2 separate regions of the Homo sapiens genome follow, and region 1 is linked to region 2. The links come from fine-mapping of genetic effects on gene expression. A gene starts in region 2. The other region holds a variant in brackets. All regions are shown on one strand. Distances are between the middles of the regions. Region 1 overlaps INPP1 (inositol polyphosphate-1-phosphatase). Region 2 holds the start of INPP1 (inositol polyphosphate-1-phosphatase).

The links. PIP is the estimated chance that this variant, and not a neighbour inherited with it, causes the effect.
Region 1: its variant is fine-mapped to the expression of INPP1 in cerebellar hemisphere (GTEx, PIP above 0.99). The same link has a PIP of 0.9 or more in nasal epithelium, prefrontal cortex, tibial nerve and whole blood.

The regions. Positions count from the first base shown.
Region 1 is chr2:190,365,888-190,375,137 of GRCh38, reverse strand. INPP1 (inositol polyphosphate-1-phosphatase) reads right to left here. Exons shown (of 7, transcript NM_001128928.2): 5 at 8,243-8,443; 6 at 5,861-6,035; 7 at 3,473-4,294. The coding sequence ends at 3,736. Among named protein-coding and RNA genes, the nearest start is that of INPP1, 27 kb to the right of the region's middle. The variant G/A (reference allele first, on the strand shown) is at 4,869.
Region 2 is chr2:190,339,734-190,349,203 of GRCh38, reverse strand. It overlaps INPP1 (inositol polyphosphate-1-phosphatase), which reads right to left and starts at 5,615. Exons shown (of 7, transcript NM_001128928.2): 1 at 5,243-5,615; 2 at 173-316. It overlaps LOC124906109 (serine/arginine repetitive matrix protein 1), which reads left to right and starts at 4,155. Exons shown (of 1, transcript XM_047446773.1): 1 at 4,155-9,470. The coding sequence starts at 4,888. The coding sequence ends at 5,766. RefSeq lists silencers at 4,920-5,249, 5,320-5,629.

The DNA.
Region 1 (9,250 bases), 26 kb before region 2:
TTTTCCATGGAGGTTGTACTAATTAATATTCCCATCATCAGTGTATAGGCATCTCTTTTTCTCCACATCCTTGCCAACATCAGTTTTTGTTTTTTTTACTTTTTAATAATGGCCATTCTGACTGGTGTAAGATGGTATTTTATTGTGCTTTGGAGAATTTTGAACAGAAGAGGGACATGATCTGATCTGTGTTTGAAAAAGATCACTCTGGCTTCTGTCTTGAGAATGAACAGTATGGAGGCAAGTTAGAAGTTTATTGCAATAATCCAGGTGATGCATAAAAAGGCATGGAGCAGGGTGGGGTATAGGACAGTGATGTGGAATAGCTGAATTCTGGATATATTTTTGAAAGTGGAGACCAGAGAGTTTCCTGAGTGATTGCATATAGGTTGTGAGAGCAAGAAAGGAAGGGATGTTGACTTGGATTCCCAAAGACTGCTCTTCTTGATGTGCAGTTGAGGCTCTCTTTGTACTACTCTGTGTCTAAGTGACCTGGCAGACTAATCTCTCTATCCATCCTCCTGTAAAACACAGACTGATGCAAAAGACACTTGACTTTCATGGCCAAGAGGCTCCTCTGTAGAACACCCCTCCATCACTACCTCCAACTCCTGTTCCCATCAGATAAATTGCCTGCATACCAAGAATTGTTGACCGGGTGCAGTGGCAGCACTTTGGGAGGCCAAGGCGGGTGAATCACGAGGTCAGGAGTTGGAGACCAGCCTGGCCAACGTGGTGAATCCCTGTCTCTACTAAAAATACAAAAAATTAGCTGGGCATAGTGGCAGGCATCTGTAATCCCAGTTACTAGGGAGGCTGAGGCAGGAGAATTGCTTGAACCCGGGAGGTGCAGGTTGCAGTGAGCCAAAATCACACCACTGCACTCCAGCCCAGGTGACAGAGTGAGACTCCATCTCAAAAAAAAAAAAAAATTGTTTACTTCTTTCCACAACTCTATATTCCAATTTTATTTCTAATAATTAAATTAATATAACGTAAAGTAATGGAGTGTGGGTTTGAAAACAAAGAATTGGAGGCTTTAGTAAGTGTGGGTAAAGGTGAACCAAAAAATTAGTTGGTAAGAAAACTGTGGCCAGGCGCAGTGGCTCATGCCTGTAATCCCAGCACTTTGGGAGGCCAAGGTGGATGGATCACCTGAGGTCAGGAGTTCGAGACCAGCCTGGCCAACATGGCGAAACACTGTCTCTACTAAAAATACAAAAATTAGCCGGGCATGATGGTAAGTGCCTGTAATCTCAGCTACTCAGGAGAGTAGCTGAGATTTATGCTCAGCTACTGAGGCAGGAGAATCACTTGAACCTGGGAGGCAGAGGTTGCAGTGAGCCAAGATCGTGCCATTGCACTCAAGCCTGGGTGACAGAGCAAGACTCTGTCTCAAAAACAAACACCACTGTAAAAATGGAATATTTTTAAGTTCTTCCTCTACAGAAAATAAAACTAGAAATCATAGTCACCTGGTTGTGGCTTCTGCAAGAAAAACAATGCAGACCCATCAGAGGCACATGCTTAAAGAAAGGGCTTTGGCTTTTCTGCAAAGATTGATGGTGAATAATATACATTATAGATGTTCACAGAATATAATGATTCCCTCTTCCATCCAGCTTTTGACCCCTCCAATTGAGAAATTTGAGCCCTAGGAGTTCGAGACCAGCCTGGGAAGCATGGCAAAACCCCATCTCTACTAAAACACAAAAATTAGTCAGGCATGGTGGCATGCACCTATAGTCCCAGCTACTTAGGAGGCTGAGGTGGGAGGATCGCTTGAGCCCAGGAGGTTGGGGCTGCAGTGAGCCATGATCATTCCACTGCACTCCAGCCTGGTGACAGAGTGAGACCCTATCTCAAAAAAAAAAACAAAACAAAAAAAAAAAAAAAAAAAAAAAACGAAAAGAAATCAGTATGTTAAAGAGATACCTCCACTCCCATGCTCATTTTGATATTATTGACAATAGCCAAGATATGAAATCAACCAAGATATGAATGAATGGGTAAAGAAAATGTGGTATTAATATGTATACACAATGGATACTATTCTGCCATAAAAAAAGAAATCTTGTCATTTGGATGACCCTGAAGGACATTGTTAAGTAAAATAAGCCAGGCACAGAAAGACAAATACCACACGGCCTCACTTACACATGGAAACTGAAAAAGTCAAACTCACAGAAGCAGAGAGTAGAATGGTGGTTATCAGGGGCTGGAGTGTTTGGGAGATGTTGGTCAAAGGATAGAAAATCCTAGTTAACAGGAAGAATAAGTTCAAAAGATCCTATGACGTGGTGACTATAGTTAATAACAACGTATTGTTTACCTGAAAATTGCTAACAGATTTTAAGTGTTCTCACTACACACACACACAAAAAAATGTAAGGTAATGTTAGTTTGATTTAGCCCTTCTGCAATATATACATATGTCAAAGCATCATATCATATGACATAAACATAATTTGTCAAAAATTTTTAAGTGTAAGGACATTAGAAAATAAGATTGTTATTTTCATGCATTTGTAAATAGAGGATCTGTAGAAACATCCTTTGGCCCCCAGGGGGCGTAGGGCAGAATGAAGTCAGAGCCGAGGATTTGATCCCTGCAGTTGGCACTCTCTGGTTACCAGGCCTGCCACAGAGAATACAGAAAAAGTACTTTATGTCCACTTCAGAGAACATTCACTGTGGGATGCTGGTACACAAGGGTTGTATATATCTAAAGTCCACCTCTGGTTTTTGGTAAAGTGTAGTAAATATGCAAAAATTGCAGAAACCTCTACTCATTGTACTCTTTTGCTTCTGTGTGTGTATATGTGTCTTTCTGTTTGTCTGTGTCTTTCACTGTGTATGTGTGTGTGTGTGTGTGTGTGTGTGTGTGTGTGTGTGTGTATCCCTGTCTCTCCCTGTCTCTGCAAAGGGGGAGCCCACAGTGTTCCAGGCTTTACTTCCTATAAGAAATACAAGAATACTGTTAAAAGTACATAAACTTGGCTAACTTACGCAGATTAAGTTCTAAATGTTCTGCCAACAGGCTAAAATTGCAGATTTTTCCCTTCGAGAGGAAACAAAACTCAAGCAAACCCCTCCTGTATTCTCCCTTATATTTCAGAGAAATTTCTATCGCTTAGATGTTTAGCATAGTTTTACTAATTTAACAGGATTTTTTCCTCGTTCATCAATTTTTTTTTTTTTTTGAGACAGTCTCGCTTTGTCACCAGGCTGGAGTGTAGTGGCACAATCTCGGCTCACTGCAACCTATGCCTCCCGGGTTCAAGCGATTCTCCTGCCTCAGCCTCCTGAGTAGCTGGGACTACAGGCACACACCACCAAGCCCAGCTAATTTTTATATTTTTAGTAGAGATGGGGTTTCACCATGTTGGCCAGGATGGTCTTGATTTCTTGACCTCGTGATCCGCCCGTCTTGGCCTCCCCAAGTCCCGGGATTACAGGCATGAGCCACTGCTCCTGGTCAATATTTTATTGAAATGTTTCAAGCAGCACTAACAGCACAATATTCACTGTAAGAATTTCATACACCAATATAATTGCTGCATGAATGTCATTTATTGAAATTAACATTATTATGAATACATAATGGAAAAATACTCCTCAAAAGAGGAAGGTGAATGTTAACCAGCAACAGGACAAAGCCATCCTCAAAAGACAGAGATAACCGAAACAGTTTCACAGTTCAGTTTATACAGGTACACCGGGGTTAGAGTTCCTCTAGGTATGCGTCTCTGCAGGTGCCAGGTTTTGGACCAGGAGGCTCAGGAATGTCTCCAGCCGCTTCCTGGATCTGTATGCAATGAGTCCTCCCTTGTTGGCCCACCGATCCACCCCAGCAGCACCCTCATTTTCCACGTGGTACACCAACTGTGGCAAATCAAGCCCTGTTTCTGGATTTCTTTCTAAGCATTCTTTCAAGTCTACTATTCCCCCACCCATGGCCCTCAGTATGGCATGAGCAGCACAAGAGTCCCATTTGAATGTGGTATCTTCTGAAAAGATGTAAATGTCAACGAGGCCTTGGACAACACATAGGCTCTTATAACCAGCCCCAGCTGCCCCAAATATGCGATCTCCACACACACGTGACAATGCAGCTTTGATAGTCTCCTTTTCACTTGTACTAATTACGGCTGAAAAACTGGGGGAGAATGCTGCCTCAGAGCCGGTGTTTCCAGTGTGTGTTTCACTGCCGTTTCTTCTAGAGATGGTGAGCTGTAGTGAATGCATGTTGGTCCCCATGTAAGAAAGGCCCCAATAGCACTGTCCTTTCCACCTGTAGAAGAAAAATTTCAATTGGTGATGATTATCACATTTGTTTTTCATTACTCATGTCACTTTCAAACTTAATGATACGAAGAAATACACAATTCATCATAACATGGTGAATCTTAACACCTTTAAGTCTAGGAATAGATATCAGGTAGCTAGTTTATTTCAGAAAGTTACTTATATGCATGCAGCTGCCTGAGTTGTTGCAATTAGAAATGCTTTCAATTTTATGGCATTATCACATCAATCTAGGACAACACTAAAACATTTATGGGGTTTCCAGCTTCCAGAACCATTGCAAAATTTCATTACAACTTTTAGTATTTAAAGTTTAGTAGGGAAAAAGGAATAGAAAAGTGATATCTCTTTTTGATCTGCAAATATTCTACAATCCCTATAACAAGTTTTTCTTTATTTGGTAACTCCTTTTCATTCTCTTATTCACTAGTTTCACGTTGGCTTCCAACACAAAGAAAGATGGACTCAATGTTATTAGTTTTGGCAACCACAATAATTATAGCACCTTCCCTTTATCAATGCTTAACTTACTGTCTATGTTGTTACATATTTACAGATAA[G/A]GAAACAGGCTTAGAGAAAGTAAGTAGCTTGCTGAGGCCCACTCAGCTAGAAAGTGGTAGAATCTGCATTCAAACCCACAAAGTCTCACTCTGAATCTGTGCCATAAACTATTTTGTTGACCACCTCCATTTCTAGGCCATGATTATGTCTGCATATTGTTCCAATTCTTTTTAATTTCTTATTAACCTTTTAAAGATAGCAGAAACCTATTTTTAGTTTGGAAGATGGTGGGGGTAGGGGGAAAATATTAAAACTTAAGAGGTATAAACTTATGACTATTAAAGAGCAAATGATTGTTACTTGAAGCAGCTCAGGTTCAATAAAAATATGTAATCCTATATAAGTGAAAAAATATGACCTATTTCAATAAAAAGCTGAACTGCTTGTTCCACCTGGACTTTGCCATGCCCTGGAGTCAACCCCAAAGCACAGGCCATGGATCAGAGGCAGCTGAGTCCTGGCCACTTTCTACGCTCTGTTTAAGAGTGCATGGAAGAGTGGAAGGGAGGAGGCAGAAAGGGAGTGTGAGTTAGGTTCTGATCCTGGCCATGCCTACCAATCTTTTCATTGGATAATTTTCACATTTTGTTTTGAACTTCTAAAATTATACCAAAGTTCAACTGGCTATACAGCGATGGCAGCTGTCTTATTCCCAATGTATTGGAAGGCAGTGTTACCACCACTCTACTTATCTGGTTTTGAGTGGATTCTAGAAACAGGGAACAGGATTACTATATTCCAAATGTAAAACTATGATTTCTACAGGATAGTATTAATTTTAAAATTTCTACCAGCATGCACTTGGCCTGAAATAAAATTACGCAAATCCAAGATTGAAAATAGAACTTTAATTCAAATACGCAGACTTTCAATGGCAACACTCCCATGTGTTAAGTCATGGGAATGTCATATAGTGATAATCCTAACAACAAGCAAAGCTGAGGTCGTAAGTTCTAACAACCATAATATACCAAAAATATTTGCCTTTTACCTGAGGGTGTTTGGATCTCGTGACACAAAAGGTTGATTGATGACTCCCATCAGGGGAACCCCTGTCTGTATGTCATAGACACCAATTAAAATGGTGACACACTGAAGTCCACAGGGGAAGATTCCCTGGTTGGATTTAATGTCAGCAGAACCTTTTATATACTGATAAGTTGAATCTGAAAAAGGAAACAAATGTGTTTGGATTCAGGTAAAGATCATTTAGAAGACTCTGTTCCATATGACTTCTCTCTTCTACTGATTTGGTAACCAATAATTTTTTACCTTTGGATGTCACTGTATTGAATTGTTATTTGGCCTCTTGTACTTTACTTTTAAATTGCTTGTGTTTCATTTTCCTGACTGTGAGAACTCTTGAAGGGAGAGGATGTGTCTATAGTTCCTGTGGCATAGCAATTTGTATATAACAGGCATTCAAATATTTGTTACTTATCAAAAGCATTGAAAAAGTAATAACCAGAATAATTGGTGGGATTATTTTAGAAATACTACTAATCAGAGGACTAGTACAATGTGAGATGGAAAAGCCTCCTTCCAATGGGTGAAAAAAAAAGACCTACTATTTGATAGCACAATAGGGTAACTATAATCAATAAGAACTTAACTGTACATTTTAAAATAAAGAGTGTAACTAGATTGTTTATTACTCAAAGGATAAATGCTCAAAGGGATGGATACCCCATTCTCTATGATGTGCTTATCTCACATTGTGTGCCTGTGTCAAAACATCTCATCTACCCCATAAATATATACACCTATTATGTACCCACAAACATTTTAAAAAGGAAAAGAAAAAAAGAAAAGCCCCCCTCCTGTAATAGGTCACAGGTAATATTATCTTTTACTATTATTATTTGGTCCCTCAAGTTAGAAGGAAGAAAGAGACAATGATGGTGGCACCAAAAAAAGAAATTAACGGAGCTCCTATGAAACAGAGGCAGAGAAACTAGGTTTCCCCTTAAGAGATGTACATGCCAGCAGCTGACTGCTGACGTCTAGGGAGTCAACACACGGCTAAGGATGTGCCTGGCAAAAGACTCAAAGAGCTCAAAAACAGAATCAATTCAGGGTGGAACCAAGAAACAGGAGATCTCTGTCCCTCAGAAACTATAACTGATGCCAATTTACCCTTAAATGATCAAAGATTTGGGGAAAGGTTTTTAGTTTCCATATATCATCCACTGGCTGAATGTGATATAATTATCTGAAGATTAAACCCATTTCAGTATCATCCTGTGAATGCACTTGTAGGATGGGAAGGGCCCAGAGAGGAGTTTGCCTGGTCCTTGAATGGTCCCATTGTGTTGGGTGGGGAAGAAAAAAAAGGAAGGGGGAGCTTATTAAAATTATTACCTAGAACTTGTATTAATAGCATCATTGAAGATAAAGGCTGGCTGGGCATGGTAGGTCATGCCTGTAATCATCCTAGCACTTTAGGAGGCCAAGGCAGGCAGATCGCTTGAACCCAGGAGTTCGAGACCAGCCTGGGAAACATGGTAAAAACCCCTTCTCTAAAAACAATATAAAAAATTAGCCTAGTGAGGTGGCATGCAACTCTGCCACCTACTTGGGTCCCAGCTACTTGGGAAGCTGAGATAGGAGGATTGCTTGAGCTCAGGAGGACAAGGCTGCAGTGAGTGAGTTCTGACTGTGCCACTGCACTCCAGCCTGTGTGCAACACGAGACTCTGTCTCAAAAAAAAGGGTTACATTTTCAAAACAATGGATTATACATTATGGTTCTATCACAATCATGACCAAAAAAAATGTAGAGCTCATGCAGGGCTCACAAACTGCTCATGCGTCACATTCAGCTTTTTGCTTGACCTGTACTGTGTTTTTTTGATTGTTTCCTTCTTTAACTGAATTAGTAGCTAACGGTTAGAAATTGGGATATATCGCTGAAAACCTTGGATTTTGGTTTCTCTTTAAAAATCTGAAGAGCTGGCCTGTACTCCCATATGGTAACAATCTGCTAAAGCTAAGTGCTCTTTAAATGGTATGTGTGCTCAATTGGTCATAACTGCTCTCACTTCATTCTCTCATTTACTTACCAGTCTGGTCCCTGAAGTCTTTTGAAGAGAAGTTAATTCATCTTTGCATGTGTGCCTGTATGTATGTGTGTGTATATACACACACCTGTTATAGATATGTATATATATACACACGGCTATAATATATATGTATATATACAGAACACATGACACATACACCTCAACTCTCATTGTTTTAAAACTTTAAAATTTTAAAAACTTCTAGCAGAGTTAAACTACACTCAATAATTTTTATTTTTCCAACACCCATCCCCAACCCCACCACCAAAAAAAAGATTGCAAATAAGAACAAACATACTTTCCTATACTTACCTATGGGGTCCACCCAAATTCCCAAAATGTCCTGTGGAACATTGATCTCTGTGGAATCCAGAGTTGGGTCAGTAAAGGCAACATCCTGATGAACAACCCTGGCTAATGCTTCAGATGCCACCTTGTTACCATTGAGGACTTTGCTAAGAAGCTCTGCTGTTTCCTCCTCTGTTGAACACAACCTCAAGGTAATCTTTTCCCCTAGGGTAAAGCCACACGATAAGCCATTACATTTCAAGAGTTTCAGTGGAGAAAGAACAGAGAGAGAGAGCTAAAGAGTGAGAGAGACAGAGAGAGCGAGAGAGAGAGACAGAGAGAGAGCGAGAGACACAGAGAGCGAGACAGAGCGAAAGAGCGAGAGAGACAGAGCAAGAGAGTGAGAGAGAGACACACAGAGAGAGCGAGAGACACAGCAAAAGAGCGAGAGACAGAGAGAGCAAGACAGAGAGAGTGAGACAGAGTGAGACAGAGTGAGACAGAGTGAGAGCAAGAGAGACAGACAGGGAGAGTGAAAGAGACAGAGCAAAAGAGTGAGACAGAGCAAGCAAGAGAGAGACAGAGCGAGAGAGTGAGACAGAGAGAGTGAGACAGAGCGAGAGAGACAGAGAGCGAGAGAGAGACAGGAAGAGTGAAAGAGACAGAGGGAAAGAGTGAGACAGAGAGCAAGCAAGAGAGAGACAGAGCGAGAGAGCGAGACAGAGCAAGAGACAGAGAGCAAGAGACAAAGAGCGAGAGAGACAGCGAAAGAGCGAGAGAGAGCAAGAGAGACAGAGCGAGACAGAGAGCGAGAGATTCAGGGAGAGACTGAGAGAGACAGAGTGAAAGAGACAGAGAGACAGAGAGAGCAAAAGAGTGAGACAGAGAGCGAGCGAGAGAGAGCGAGACAGAGCGAGAGAGCGAGAGAGAGCGAGACAGAGCGAGAGAGCGAGAGAGAGCAAAAGAGTGAGACAGACAGTGAGCGAGAGACAGTGAGACAGAGCAAGAGAGCGAGACAGAGCAAGAGACACA
Region 2 (9,470 bases):
GGCCTCCCAAAGTGCTGGGATTACAGGCGTGAGCCACCACACCTAGCCTTAATCTTCAATCTATTTTGAATGTAACATTTTTCATTAATTAAGGAAGATTCCAAAGTCAATTTATCTTTCCTTTAGAACTCATGCCATACTAATTGGAGACACCAACTCCTTTAACACTTACTGTTTATTGTCTGGATGGGCCTGGATGGGCCTGCAGGGTGTGCGGTAGAAAGAGCCTTGCTTGGGATACAGGAGAGCTGGTTCTTAGGCTCTGTTTTGCCAATCAGGTATATAAACTCGGCCACATGATGTAAGCTCTGAAGGACTTGTTTTCCCCATTTTGTAAACATAAAAAAGGAAAAGAAAAGCAGGGGCAGAGAGGTTGGATTGGATGATTTCTATGATCTGTTCCAGTTCAAAACTTCTCTGTTTTTTATATCTACTTCTCATATAAATGAGATTGGGAAATATTATTCAGCCTTAAAAAGAAAGGAAATTCTGACACATGCTACAACATGGATGAAACTTGAAGACATTATGGCACATGAATAAGCCAGACTGAAAAAGACAAATACTCTATGATTCCACTTGTATGAGGTACTCAGAATGTCAAATTCGTGGAGACAGAAAGTAGGATGGTGGTTACTAGGGCTGGGAAGAGAGGGTAGAGTCATTGTTTAATGGGTATAGTTTTTGTGTGGGATGATGAAAAAATTCTGGACATGAACAGTGCTGATGGTTGCATAACAAAGTGAATGTACTTAATGCCACTGAGCTGTAATTTGAAAACGGTTAAAATGGTAAATTTGATATTAGATATCTTTTACCACAATTTTTTTAAAGTTAAAAAAAAACAAAAAATTACAGGTTCAAAGAAATGCACATTTCAAAAGCTTTTGATGTTTATCATCTACATAATAAGGGCATAATAAATATTTGTTGACTTATATTTTTAAAAAACAAGTGGGGGTAGCGATAGGAAAATTAGGTTTAAAGAAGGGCACTAGGCTATTTAAGTTGATTTCATACAGCAACCACACCGGTGTTTTGTTTTGTTTTGTTTTGTTTTGTTTTTGAGACAGAGTCTCGCTCTGTTGCCCAGGCTGCAGTGCAGTGGCACGATCTTGACTCACTGCAACCTCCGCCTCCCAGGTTCAAGCGATTCTCCTGCCTTAGCCCCCCTAGTAGCTGGGATTACAGGCACGCGCTACCACACCTAGCTAATTTTTGTATTTTTAGTAGAGACCAGGTTTCGCCATGTTGGCCAGGCTGGTCTCGAACTCCTGACCTCAGGTAATCCACCCGCCTTGGCCTCCCAAAGTGCTGGGATTACAGGCGTGAGCCACCATGCCCAGCCTCCATCCTCATTTTAAGAGTTGCTGATAATGAAAAATTATGGCATCAATTTAAGTTATGCTTTCCTTAAGCAATGTTAAAAGAACAATTTTCTTTGGTCACTTGAATTTAACTCCTTTGATATGAATTATTACTCTCATTTGCATTGAGCAAAGCCTACCACTGTCACTTTAGAGGAAAAGGGCAAGTTTAAATATCTATTGGTAAAGTTGGCAAATATTTAAATTAATTTAAACATGGATAATTTACTATATTTTAAATATTTAGTTGGTTAAAAATAAAAACAAATGAGCAAATAACACACACTCTCCATCCCCCCCCAAAAAAGGAGAAAGAAAAGCAATGTAAAGAGGAAGAAGGAAAAGGAAAATAAATTCTGACATTTTCCATTATGGTAACTCATCTTGTCAAATTATTTTATAGGTATTTAATATTCTATTTCTTTAATTTTTTTATATATAACTGACCAAGTTTTAGGGCCAAATAAATTTTTTTTTCTTTTTTGAATGGGGTTGAGAGTCATTTTTTAAAAAGCTACAAATAAGGAGCCAGGTGTGGTGGCTCACGCCTGTAATCCCAGCACTTTGGGAGGCCAAGGCGGGTGGATCACGAGGTCAGGAGATCGAGACCATCCTGGCTAACACTGTGAAACCCCATCTCTACTAAAAATACAAAAAATTAGCCTGGTGTGGTAGCGGGCACCTGTAATCCCAGCTACTCGGGAGGCTGAGGCAGGAGAATCGCTTGAACCTGGGAGGCAGAGGTTGCTGTGAGCCGAGATCACACCACTGCACTCTAGCCTGGGCAACAGAGTGAGGCTCTGTCTCAAAAAAAAAAAAAAAAAAAAAAGCTACTAATAAGGTATTCAAATTTGCATGCCTGTCTTGCCTATAATTATTTAATCAGGCACATGGAAGAGGTAACAAATAAATCTATAATATGAAAGAAATTAGGCTGGGTGCAGCAGCTCACACCTGTAGTCCCAGCATTTTGGGAGGCTGAGGCAGGAGGATGTCATGAGCCCAGGAGTTTGAGACCAACCTGGGCAACATAGTGGGACCCCATCTCTACAATTTTAAAAATTAGCTGGGATGGTGGCACGTGCCTGTAGTCCCAGACACTCGGGAGGCTGGGGTGGGAGGATTCCTTGAGCCTGAGAGGTGGAGACTGCATAAGCCATGATCACACCACTGTACTCCAGCCTGGATGACAGAGTGTGACCTTTTCTCAAGAAAAAAAGAAAAAAAAGAAAGAGAAATTATTAGGTACAATATTTTGCTGTGGATTACTAGTTACAGTAATCTGCATTAGTCATCCATTAATAAAATGCTCTTATCACATTCAAGAAATTGAATTAACATTACATACCACATAAAAAAGACTAAACATGCAAAAATATGTTTGCTAAATTTGATCAGCAGAAGCTTGACCAGAAAAAAATATAAAAGTTTCAGATTTCCTAAATGAGTGGCCTCATCATATTAATAAAATCAGTTTCCATATATGAACATTTTATGTACAGGAGTCCTAATAAGTTTTATCAACTATTCATTCCAACAATAGTCATTTCCCACCTGCATTTCCCAAACTCACCTTTTTTGTTGTTGTTGACTATTTTAAAATTTTATCATTTTTGTCTATTTGAAATATCTCCTTTCTCTTAGAAATTCTGATCCAGGAAGTCTCAAGTTGCAATCTGGGAATCTTTTAAACCACTATTATACTCTACCCACTCCCCGACTTGCCTACTACCCTGAGGAATTTTACAATCAGACAAGTTTGAGAAACAGTACCCAACATCAATCACAGGAGACGGGAAGCAGAACTTTTATTTTTTTAATTTTAACTTAATTTTTATTTTTTGAGATGAAGTCTTGCTTTGTCGCCCAGGCTGGAGTGCAGTGGCGCGATCTGGGCTCACTGCAACCTCTGATTCCTAGGTTCCAGGGATCCTCCAGCCTCAGCCTCCTGAATAGCTGGGACTACAGGTGCTTGCTACCACGCCTGGCTAATTTTTGTATTTTTACTAGAGACGGGGTTTCACCATGTTGGCCAGGCTGGTCTCGAACTCCTAACCTCAAGTGATCCACCTGCCTTGGCCTCCCAAAGTGCAGGGATAACAGGCGTGAGCCACCACGCCAGCCAGAGCCTTTATTTCTAAGCTCTCAGCCAAACACATTAACATAGTTTTATTAACTTCATTACAAGATTCAAAGTATTTTAACAAGAACATTCATAAGGACTCACATCGGGAAAAAGTGCTTATATACACCATCCTCACCTTTAAAAAATGAAGATGACGTTTGTTTTCATTGATCACTTTATATAACATAATTATCTTTTAAGCAATTTCTGTATAACATGAAATAGAATGAGACATTTTCTAACTGTTATTAGAGACAGAATTAAAAAGCAAAATAAATATATAATAACCTTTATAACTTTTGTCTCACAGGCCTTCTATGTCAAACAAGAAATTATCTTTTCATTTTTTTCAGGACTATAACAAGGAAAGCTATAATTTAAATCTATAATAAGGTATATCATTTTAAAGGGCATTAGTCAAAGCTGCAATTTCCAAGCAAGCGGTGGTTTAGTCCAAAAGCTTGAAAAGTGGTAGCTTATTCTACACAAAAAGTACAGTGTAACTCTATGTATTTGACATAATTCTCTTCATGACTAAGCTGACTTCAAAAGTAGTATAAAAATCCATAAAAACTTAAAAATAAAGTAGGCTCTACATAAGAATGGAAACAAATATCTGTATTGAAAAAATGAATTCTTCCATTGCCTTTATTTTTTCCCTTATGTTCTCTATTTTAAAAGGTAAGAATGAGATCACTTAGCTAATTCACCAATCAAGAGTAGTTCAGTGGATTACTTTCATCCTTATACTATTATCAAGTTGAGCAGGGCTGATCCTTATCAACTTTTCTGGCTTCAAAGCTAGGAATCAGTGTAAAAGGGCTAAAAAATCTTTTACTCAACAGATGGGATCCACTTAAGTGGTCTGTCCATACTTTTAACCCACTGTTCTTTTGAAGTGAACACCATCATACAGTGGGCAAACTTCTGCTTATTCAACACTTTAAAAATACCTTTAAAATGAGAAATCTCCAAAAAACAAGCCGTGGTTTCTTATAAGTGTTTTTCACAGATGTACTAAAGTAAGCGTTTCCTTTCACACTCTTTGCGCCTAACCGTCTACATGATAGGGCCAAACCCAGGTTAAATATTTTTTTCCAGCTACCACTCTGGACACACCAACTAATTATGCACACCTCACAAAACCACCTTTCAAAATGCAGAGAGAATTAACAGCAAGGAAGTAAAGATTTTTCTAAATATAGTCCCATCATATTTATTTCACACTCATCAAGTAGGTCACTGGAGGTAGCTGGCAGCTAGGGACACTCAGATGCATCTCTCAAAGCCAAGGCTGAGACCAAGGGGTCACTGACAGCTGCGCCATCTACCTGTTGCAGCTGGGCCACTGCTCTGGACAACTGTCAGATCAGCTTCTTCGTCCTACAAATACTAATGACTGGATTTTTAAAATCGTTGTTTGCCACCCTTTCTTCCCGCCCCCCAACCCCATCGGGCCGCTCGGGCAGGGCCAAGGGCGCCGCGGGACTCACGAGCTCCCCTCCGCGCTGGCTGCAGCGGCGATGCCGGGCATGCCTGGCCGGGCCCGGCCGGGGGCGGCCTCGCTGCCGGGGCAGGGACCTCGCAGGCCGGCGCGCAGAGGCGAGGAACCCTCCCGGCGCCATCGACTCACCTACCCGCGGAGAGGCGACGGCGCGCGCCGCTCACCAGCCCGGGCCCCAGATCCAAGGAGGAGGGGCAGCGGCGCGGGGACCCTGTGGTGGGTGTCGTAAGGAGGAAAACGTGTTACCTAAGCCGGGGATGAGGACAGAGCAGGAGGCAGCAGCCTTTCCCTCGAGAAACGGAAGCGGCGGGGAGCAGGAGGAGGAGGAGGCGCGGCCCGGGCGCGAGGTTAGGCGAGGGGCGCTGGGCGTGCGGCCGCAGGCGCGGCCAGAGGACGAGGGTTGGGGAGGACGGCGGAGGTCACGCGAGCGAAGGCGAAGCCCCGGCGACGCACGGCCCCGCTTGGCTCGGCACCGGATCCGAGCTTGGCCTCAGCCAGGCCGCCGCCCCCGGCTTTCCCGCGGGACCGCGGCGTGGAAACGCGCGCTGCCGCCTCGGGGCTCCCGGGACGCGCGGGCCCCCCACGCCTGCCCGAGCCGGGCGTCCGCGACGTCACAAGTGGAGCGCGATGATTCAGAGGGAGGGCCAGGAAGGGAAGGGCTCTGGGGTCAGCTTGGCCACGGCTGCTGTTTCCTTGTCGCCGCCCACGAATTCACTTTTAAATCTTCCTCCTCCATTCATCTGTACTCTCATAGGGGACTGCGGGTTTGACAGATGGGTTGGCAGCTGTGAAGATGGACTTCCTGCCAGTGGTATCCGGGTCCCACTGTTCTAATGGAAATGTCAGGTGTACTGGATGTTCCTCAAGACACAGCAGTGTCTCTGGGCCTTGCCTCTTAAGGAGTGGGCCTCGGGCCACCTGGACAGGAAGCGCATCAAGGGTGGGGAACTTATCTCTCTCCAGCCTTTGGTGCTGTGATACTCAGTGTACCTTAAGGATGGTTTGGGTTGAACCTAGGTAGGAATGGGTGTTGGTGGGCGGGGTGGGGGTGGGGGGAATAGAAACCTTAAAAGGGCAACACAAAGTTTTGAATAGAAGAGGCCAAGCAGCCTCGCCCAGAAGCTGATGTTTGTGAATGTACTGGGCCTTCTAAAGCGGCGCTTCACACACCTTTTCACTTCTTGGCACAGGTAGGAAAGGATGATATTACAAGGGTCAAAATGGGGGTAAACAGAAGAGGCTGCTCCTGCAGAAGGCTTCCTGCAGAAGCCCTTGCACTTGGAGGGCTGGGAAGACCCATGCTGTATCTGCATCCCTGTCATTCGTTTCACGGCATCCAGTTGGGAAGCTCTGCTTAAAGCTTTGTCTGGCACGTTTTCTTAGCTACATTTTTCCACTCCAGCTGAGACTGCCTCACTGAGTTGTCAACACTTGGTCTTCTTCAGCAGTGAGGAACCAACAAGACAGGAGGCTGGGTCAATACTCAACTTGGCAAACTCCAGGAAATGGTGCTTAAAACGTTTGGCTTCTTGAATGGAATTCATGGTACTGCTCCCAGCCTGCACCTGGGTTCTCCAACTTGAGACAATTTCTCCCCGCATCCCCCCACCCTTCCCTGGCTTTCACTCACTAGCAAGTGGGCTGCTTCTACTTTCTTTCTCACATTCATTTCTTAGGTCCATTCTCAGAGCGGTTAGGATTACTGTTTAATTAGCCTCATAATCATATCTATGATGGCAAAATCAAGAAACAATTTAAACATGATTCTTAAAAGTAAGGAGATAAATACCAGAGACATAGAAGGTGAAAGAATTTGCCTCTAGGAAGCAGGAATTTAAATTTGGGGAAGACAGGGTGGAGCAAGGGATATAAATCTAGTCCATTTTTCTTTTCTTTTCTTTTCTTTTTTTTTTATTTTTAAGATAGAGTCTCACTCTGTCGCCCAGGCTGGAGTGCAGTGGCATGATCTTGGCTCACTGCAACCTCTGCCTCCTTCGTTCAAGCGATTCTCCCACCTCAGCCTCCCTAGTAACTGGGATTACAAGTGACTGCCACTATGCCCAGCTAATTTTGTATTTTTAGTAGAGACGAGGTTTCACCATGTTGGCCAGGCTGGTCTCGAACTCCTGACCTCAGGGGATCCGCCCAGCTCAGCCTCCCAAAGTGCTAGGATTCCAGGCGTGAGCCACTGCACCTGGCGGAATCTAGTCCATTTTCCACTTTGCTACCACACATCTGCAGGGTTTCTTGCTTGCTTAAAAGCTTTCATTGGCTCCCAATCTCTGATAATATCAAGAGCAAGTTCCTGAACAACTCATTCAAGACCCATCACCCCTCGCATCTGTCAACTCTGCCCCTTGAATATTACACCTCATTTTACTACACCACATCTAGTTCCCTGAATATGCAAACAGATTTCATACATTTGCACCTTTATACATGTTATTGCTTTTGCCTGGGAGAGTATTCTCTTGCTGCTATAATAATAGCTAATGACACTGTGCTAAGTACTTTCTGTGATTTATAACTGTTAATTCTTACATCAACCCTATGGTAAATGTTACTGTTATCTCCATTTTATAAACAAGAAAACTAAGACTTAAAGAGTTTAAGTGATTTGCAGAAATATGTAGTATTTGGTGAGGCTAAATTTGAACCCAGCAATCTGACTCCAGGACTAACATAATATTACCTATTCATCCTTCTAAAATGTTTCCCAGACACTAAATTTGAACAGGATTAAAAGATTTAAATGTTTTTAAGTCTTAAAAGGGCAAGGAGAAAATACAAGTGAATTGCTTTTAATCTCAAACTAAGCATGAAACAACGGCTGAAATTACAAAGGAAAAGTGACAGATCTGACTGTTGAACTTTTAACTTCTTTTATCCAAAAAAAAACCCCATAGAATAAAATTTAAAAACAAGTAAAAATTACAAAAAATTTGCAATATACATGACAGATAAGCATAACATTAAAGAGAACTTAGAAAGAAAAAATAGCCTACTAAAAATGAGCAAAATGCAAATTCGTCATCATGAGAGAAAAATGTAAATGGCCAAACATTTTTAAGAGAAGTAAAAACTTAAAACGATAATGCACCATCAAATTGAGAATAAAATAATACTCAGAGCTAGTAATTTGGGCCAGTGACCCTTGGAGTAGGATGTATAGCAACTAAAGAAACTCATACATTACTGAGAAGGGTGTAAATTGGCTCAACGATTCTGGAGAGCAATTTGACAGAATGTAGTGAAAGCGTCAAAAATGTTCACACACTTTGACTTAAAAATTACATTCCTGGAAATTTATAATACAAACATTTTCTATAAAAGGTCAGATGGCAAATACTTTGGGCTTTGAAGGCCACATATGTCTCTGTGGCTTTTCTTTTGTGTGTGTGTTTAAAAAAAAAAAAAACTGCCCCCCCTCCCCCCACCCTTGTTAGGCCATTCTTGCATTACTATAAAGAAATACCTGAGGCTGGTTAATTTATATGAAAAGAGGTTTAACTGGCTCATGGTTCTGCAGGCTGTACAGGAAGCATAATGCCATCTGCTTCTGGGGGGGCCTCAGGAAGCTTCCAATCATGCTGGAAGGTGATGGGGAGCAGATGTCTCACATGGTGAGAACGGGAGCAAGAAGGAGTTGGGGGGGAGGAGCCACATAAACAATGAGATCCCTGTGAGCTCAGAGTGAGAGCACACTTATCACCAAGGAGATGGCCCAAGCTATTCATGAGGGATCCGCCCCTATGATCCAAACACCTCCCACCAGGCTCCACCTCCAACACTGGAGATTATATCTCAACATGAAATTTGAATGGGACATCCAAACTGTATCACCCCCAAAATGTAAAGTCTCATCACAGTACATTTGGTAATGGCCAAAAGAGAAACCAAACTAAATGTCCGAGAATAAAAATTAGTTACAACTAGATACACGGAGGCAAGTTTTTAAAAAGTGTTAAAATTTTAAAATGTTGCAGAATGGTATCTATTGGATAAAATAGTATTTATGATTTATTAAGTGGAAAATACAGTTTACAAAATAATATGGTGTGATCCCGAAAACAACATAATCATGTGTGTATAAATGCATAGAAAAAAATCTGGAAAGATATAAACAGATATTTATAGTGGTCTAGGGCAGGGGATGGAATTGTAGATATTTGCTTTTTGTTTTATGTATATGTTTCCCATAATGAAATGTATTGTTTATATAATTAAAAAATATACGAAACTTTGCTTGGGGGACAACAAAGCACCTCATTTGTTAATTTGGGAAAATCTTTTATTACAATCTCTGTAAGGAGTTGGTTGCTCTCTCTTCTGTACTCCCTGATTACATAATGCTCTTCTGAGCACTTTTATTTAATAGCAGAATGGTTGATATCATTATTTAGTTAAGGTTTCCTCTATTATCGAACATCTGAGTTCCCAGTACACTAGTCTCCCCTTATCTGTGGTTTTGCTT